2 linked regions of the Homo sapiens genome follow. The protein of the gene in region 2 interacts with the protein of the main gene of each other region in a pairwise test. Each region holds a gene or a part of one and is shown on either strand. Other genes may lie near its edges.

The links. Proteins that work in one complex are often made in the same cells at the same time.
Region 1: the proteins of SOCS7 (region 2) and SH3RF1 interact in a two-hybrid assay, tested with the Homo sapiens proteins (one large-scale study listed by BioGRID).

Annotation. Positions count from the first base shown.
Region 1 is NC_000004.12:169,117,457-169,120,956, reverse strand, and holds part of SH3RF1 (E3 ubiquitin-protein ligase SH3RF1), read left to right. Parts: coding exon 1-138; intron 139-3,174; coding exon 3,175-3,434; intron 3,435-3,500. UniProt on the Homo sapiens protein: Has E3 ubiquitin-protein ligase activity. In the absence of an external substrate, it can catalyze self-ubiquitination. Stimulates ubiquitination of potassium channel KCNJ1, enhancing it's dynamin-dependent and clathrin-independent endocytosis.
Region 2 is NC_000017.11:38,396,844-38,400,343, reverse strand, and holds part of SOCS7 (suppressor of cytokine signaling 7), read right to left. Parts: intron 832-3,500; 3' UTR 1-831. UniProt on the Homo sapiens protein: Substrate-recognition component of a cullin-5-RING E3 ubiquitin-protein ligase complex (ECS complex, also named CRL5 complex), which mediates the ubiquitination and subsequent proteasomal degradation of target proteins, such as DAB1 and IRS1.

The sequences.
Region 1 (3,500 bases), on a different chromosome or scaffold from region 2:
AGAGGATGAACTAGAGCTGAGAAAAGGGGAGATGTTTTTAGTGTTTGAGCGCTGCCAGGATGGCTGGTTCAAAGGGACATCCATGCATACCAGCAAGATAGGGGTTTTCCCTGGCAATTATGTGGCACCAGTCACAAGGTATGGTTTTGAATACATTGTTTACTATGTTCTAAACAGAGAAGCTTTGTTCTTTTCCATGGTTTTCAGCCTATCCAGATTCCTTTCACATTATAATTGCCTGTTACATAGCCAAGGTTTTAAAAATCCATGTCTACATCTGCTAAAATCCCTTCTAACTCTAAAATTTTTAGCTTATTTTCACATGGATATATGTGAAATTATAGGTTTCTACCAGTAAATGTACTGGGTTTTAAGTTATTTGCTTTAATGGGAGAAGGTTCAACAACACCATTTTCAGTATTTTTCTACTAGAAAAGGCATAGTGTTGATACAAAGAAAAGCTATATTATTAATACTTATGTGTTTATATAATGCGTACTATATGCCAGGCAGGCAGATTTATAAATGCATTACACTGATTAACCTTACTTCTTAGTTGCTGTTACATTGAGGCACAGAGATATCATACAGCTTGTCTGAGATCACATAGTGAAGAAGTGCTCAAACTCAAACCCTGGTGATCTAGATTTATATTTATTTCATTAACTTGGTAATTACCTCTGAATTCTGACAATGAATTCTATAATATAGTCAGAAATAAAAATTTTAAGTATAGCATAGATCCTTCTCAACTGAGGGCAGTTTTGCTCCCCAGGGAACATTTGACAATATCCAGAAATATTTTTGATTGTCACGACTAGAGGTTAGGGGTGCTACTGGCTTTAGTGGATAGAGGCTAAGAGTGAAACATCCTATGCATAGGACAGCCTCCCACAAAAAATAATCATAATCTGGCCTAAAATGTCACTGAGGTTGAGAAACCCTGTTATAGAGTGACAGGAGCTTTAGATATGCAAAATTTTATATATTTTATGTAAAGATAGTTCAGCTTTTGGTCACTGAGGAAAGAAGCCTTGGAAACAGTTAAATGACCTGTAATGAAATCAACACTGAGGGAGCCCTAGTTTTTGACCACCGGCCGTTTAATATACAGTCCAGGTCTAACTGCATTAAATCTTTCCTCAAACCGCCTGATTTTAAACAAATAGCTTAATGAACTGACATGTTTGTCAGCTGTTGGCCTTGATTTATAGGTTGGCCAGCAGCCTAATCAAATGAAAATCACTGTTGTTGCAGATGGTGACAGAATGTTAACTTTAATTTGACTTGCAAATTTTTAATCAATATAAACATTCTTTTCTATGTATGTTAAAATCTACATTCAGAATCCATCCCATCCAGAAAATGACAGATAGAACCTCCCTGGTGCAAAATAATGATAATAATGGATAAGAGAAATGCAACAAAGAACAAAAAAATAAAGTTAATGAAGGAAAACATTTTTATAAAAATTTTTTTGTCAAACATCTTTATCAAAAACCAATTATTAGAAGTCTCTCTGCTTGTATAGCCGGGTGCAGTGGCTCACGCCTGTAATCCCAGCACTTCAGGAGGCCAAGGTGGGCAGATCACTTGAGGTCAGGAGTTGATCACTTGAGGCCTGACCAACATGGTGAAACCCCATCTCTACTAAAAAAAAAAAAAAAAAAAAAAAAAATACAAAAATTAGCCAGGCATGGTGGCACGTGCCTGTAGACCCAGCTACTTTGGAGGTTGAGGCAGGATAATCACTTGAACCTGGGAGGCGGAGGCTGCAGTGAGCCGAGATCATGCCACTGCACTCCAGCCTGGGCGGCAGAGCAAGACTCCATCCTAAGGAAAAAAAAAATCTATCTGTTTGTTTAACTCTAGAGGAATATGTGCTTACAGTAAATTCTGTCATTCATGGTAAATAATAAGGATGTTCAAGCTAATGAAGTGTTTTCTTAGTAGAAAGTTACTATATACAGAATTGTTATCATTTAAATGAATTTGGAATATGGAAAAAAACACATTACACAAAACTATACTGAACTTAATTACATTCAGTGAGTAAATAGATGTTTAGAGTTGGCTGTAACCCTGAGCATGTGCAAATACAGGATGAATACAGGAGAGTTATTTCACACTGGCCCTGCTTTCAAGGAACTTACCAAGTCAGCAGTATTTGATAAAGAATTTATTTAAAAAATAATACACCAGCTAGGCGCGTTGGCTCAAACCTGTAATCCCAGCACTTTGGGAGGCTGAGGCGGGTGGATCACCTGAGGTCAGGAGTTCGAGACCAGCCTGGCCAACATGGTGAAACCCCACCTCTACTAAAAATACAAAAAAGTAGCCGGGCATGGTGGCGCGTGCCTGTACTCCCAGCTACTCGGGAGGCTTAGACAGGAGAATCACTTGAACCTGAGAGGCAGAGGGGTGAGCTGAGATCGCACCACTCCACTCCAGCCTGGGCAACAGTGAGACTCTGTCTCAAAAAAAATACTACTACTACTAATAATAATATACCACATTTTGTAATCAAGGGCCAAAGCATAAACAATTGTGGAGTTTAGAAACAGAATGAAAGAAGAAATCCACATGAAACAATAGAATCATAAGATCTTAAACCTGAATCTGAGGCAAGGCTTCTTGAACTGACAGTGTTCATGCTGGATCTTGAAACATAAATGAGATTACAATATGTCAAGAGAAGACGGAGAGGACTTTCCACTAGTGCGTGTATGTGTGTGCATGCATGTACATGGGCACATGTGTGATGTGGAGCTGGAGGCAAGTAGGAAGCCAGGAAACAGGAGCAAAGATATGGAAATGGGGATATTGTCAGGGAATGATCCTAGCTTGTTCTGTAGATGAAGGGGGAGAATCCAGGGCCTTGAAAGTCAGTGGAGATATTTGGTCTTGTTATGGAAAGCTGAATGCAATAACTGTATATTCTTGAGCAGAGTATGACGTGTGGTTTCTGGTGACTCAGAATATATTTCAAGACCTTTCTCTGTCTCAGCCATCATTACGTTGAATTTTCTATTCTTAAACTTTATAAAAATAATTCCATTCATTTTTTAAAATGTTCTATGTTTAAAGCTCTGAGTCATTTTTCTTGCATTTAATTGTTCTTTCTGTCATTTTGCTGATGGACTGGGCTTTCCATCTATGTTTGTGTCTTGGCAGGGCGGTGACAAATGCTTCCCAAGCTAAAGTCCCTATGTCTACAGCTGGCCAGACAAGTCGGGGAGTGACCATGGTCAGTCCTTCCACGGCAGGAGGGCCTGCCCAGAAGCTCCAGGGAAATGGCGTGGCTGGGAGTCCCAGTGTTGTCCCCGCAGCTGTGGTATCAGCAGCTCACATCCAGACAAGTCCTCAGGCTAAGGTCTTGTTGCACATGACGGGGCAAATGACAGTCAACCAGGCCCGCAATGCTGTGAGGACAGGTAAGGAGGAACCCAGGCCAGAACATATCAGGATAAAGGGCTTACCTGCCTAATAGTAGATCTTTT
Region 2 (3,500 bases):
ATGACAGCTGGCAGAAGCAATAGGGATGCTGTTACCATGATCAGAGTGACATGTACAGTTATCTCAAGGGGCAATGGGTTGAGAGCAGAGGAAGAACGGGGTTAACTTCAGGTCATGGAACTTAAGGAATTAAGTAAATCACAACTAGTACAGCTTCCATGAGAGGTGTTTCTGAACTCAGGTTCCTAAACCTTAAAAAAGGATGCAGGAGTCACTACTTCTCCCAGCTAAGGCCAATTGGCTAGGTTTTGCCCAATATTCTTTTCGAGACCACCCACCCTCCTTTCTCTCCTGCTCCTACAACAGCTGCCCATGGCAACAAGAGGCAGATTCCCCCTTCCTCAGGAACTCCCAGTCCTTTGCAAACCTCAAGCCCCTCCTCCCATCTTCCAGGCCCACAGCACAGACTCTAACTCTGCCTTTGGCACCAGCTGAATGGCCGTCCCCTGTTCCCTCCTCCCACCCCTTCTTTGGACCTGCTCACCCTTCGCACCACTTTCAATCCAACGGGCACAAACCCCAACTGCCTTCAAGGTGAGTTTTCCATACCAAGTAATATAAATATCAAAAACAAAACTTCTGAAAAAGAAACAGTGTTGAGACTTCTTCCAGTTTTCCAAGGAGCCCCTCCAGTCCTAAGATGCCCAGGGGTGGGTGTGAGGTGGAGCCCCACGCAGAGTACGGTCATGTGCTTCTTCCAAGCCCCAGGGCTGCGTGGGGAACCAAAGTCTCTGCACAGAGAATCCCAACCTTCCTGTTCCCTCACTTTTCCTCTTCTTTTCATGGTAGCTTAATTTGGTTCTTCAAAGCTGGAGCTTGGCAACCAAATGCCTAGGTAGAAAAGGAAAAAAAATTAAAACAGTTCAACAGAATAGAACCAAAATGGAGTGAAATAACAGCCAGCCACTGGAGGTGGAGCAGCACACCTCAAAAGGAGAACGGAGCCTGGAGAGCTGAACGCTTCCATGAGGGCCACATGTGACTAGGGATGCAGCAGTGGCCTTTGTCAGGGGGACCTGAGCAGCCTATGACTTGGATGACAAAACAAGGTCCTGAAATAACTAATAAATACATCCTACCACATTGCATAAATTCTCTCTTTCCCTTTCCCTTACCCCTTCATTTCCTACCCATTTTTTCCCTGAGGCTCAATTGCTCTAGGGACTGAAAAGGGAAGTAAGCCCCTGGAGTAACCCCTTTTGAACCTGGCAAGAAAGAGCTCTATATTTCTTTCTTTCTTTTTTTTTTTTTTTTTTGAGACGGAGTCTCGCTCTGTCACCCAGGCTGGAGTGCAAAGGCATGATCTTGGCTCACTGCAATCTCCACTTCCTGGGTTCAAGATTCTCCTGTCTCAGCCTCCCAAGTAGCTGGGATTACAGGCATGCGCCACCATGCCTGGCTAATTTTGTATTTTTAGTAGAGACAGGGTTTCACCATGTTGGCCAGGCTGGTCTCAAACTCCTGACCTCGTGATGAGCCCGCCTTGGCCTCCCAAACTGCTGGGATTACAGACGTGAACCATCACACCTGGCCAGAGAGCTCTGTATTTCTGCAGCTTCTGTCAACTGGACAGGGTTGACACAGAAACACAAAGGCCACTGTTGCTTCCACCTTCCGACTTGAGACAGGCACTGTTCTAGCCATTACTCTATAGTCTGACTCCAAACCCCCTGGCATGAAATTCCCCAGGTAACAGCACACATAGACCAAGCAGGCCATTCAGAACTCCCAAATTAAAATCAGCCTGAACAACAAGAAGTCATAAAGGCCAAATTTCATACCCTAAAGACCTTTCCCAATGGGGCACAGTGGCTCATGCCTGTAATCCCAGAACTTTGGGAGGCCAAGGTGGGTGGATCACTTGAGTGAGGTCAGGAGTTTGAGACCCAACTGACAAACGTGGTGAAACCCAGTCTACTAAAAATACAAAATTAGCCAGGCGTGGTGGTGCACACCTGTAATCCCAGCCTCCCACTGGGAGGCTGAGGTGGGAGAATTGCTTGAACCCGGGAGATGGAGGTTGCAGTGAGCCAAGATCACGCCATTGCACTCCAGCCCGGGCAACAAGAGCGAAACTCCATCTCAAAAAAAAAAAAAAAAAAGACCTTTCCCTTGGGAAGTGTTACTTCCTCCCTTTCCAGGGCTCCTAGGGTCTACACCAGGAGCAAGTTCAGCATTACGCTTACTCTTTGTCACAGGCATCAATACTGATGTCACAGCAAAAAGGGATCCTGGGAGTTCAGTTCAAACCTTCGCCAATATATGACTGCCCCCAACACTCAAGACAAATGGCTACCCACTGGCCTGTTCCTGATCATGCCACGTCCTTCCCAGCTGAGGCAGGGCCTTTATACCTCTAGGTCCCCTTGCCCAGAATGCTCTGCTCCAAGGCACTCCCATGGCTGGCTCCTTGATATTTGGGTATCGGCTGAAATGGCACCTCCTCACAAGTCTCTCCCTGACCATCTAAACTTGAGGAGTATCCCACCACTAATCACTAAACTTTACCCAGTTTTACTTTCCTCACAACACTGTACAGTCACCTGAAATTAGCCCATTCATTTATGTTCATGTTTGCTGCCTGTCTTTCCTTAGGAGAAGGGAAGCTGAGTGAAAACAGGGCCTTTGCTTTGCTCAGCACTCTATTCTCAATTCATACTGGGTGCCAAATAAACACAAATATACAGCTATCTGCTGAATGGAAGCTCTTGAGGAAAACCATCCCAGTTTTGGACCTCTCTGTTAAAAAGGTTCTTGTAAAGTTGGACTGAAATCTAGTTCCTTGTAACTTACATTCATTTTGGTCCTTATCCATGTCTCTTTTTGCTGTGACATGGGAGGGCCTTGGGGCAGAGCATTCTGGGCAAGGGGACCTAGAGGTATAAAGGCCCTGCCTCAACTGGGAAAGGTGTGGCATGATCAGGAACAGGCCGGCAGGGAGCCACTTGTCTTGAGTGTTGGGAGCAGTCATGCACTGGCAAAGGTTTGAACTGAACTCTCAGGATCTCTTTTTGCTGTGACATCAGGATTGTTGCCTGTGGCAAAGAATAAGCGTAATGCTGAACTTGCTCCCCACTGGAACCACAGAGAGGAGGTTAATCACTCTCTTCCTTAGGAAAACCCATCAAATGCATCTTTCAGCTATCCCTCCCTAAAACCTCCGTGCTCTGGGTTAATCACATTTCTTTCTAGGCCATTTATTCCCATATGATGAAGTTTGAGCTCTCCAATGCCACAAGGCCTTTCTCTGAACATGCTCCCTGTTTATATGGGTTCTTCTACAGCACTGCACCCACAGACGTGGTCCTCTAACTGAATGGCCTAATTACTCTTCAAGGGTAGTCAGGTAGGTGGACCTCCCTAGTGCTCTACCTCTCACCCTAATCTCAACTGCAAAGCCATCATGCAGAGAAATCCACCTAGACACAAGACATTAGATATTTAGTCATTTCCAAAGGCATACAATTTGCATATAATTGAAGACATGATGAGACTGTACA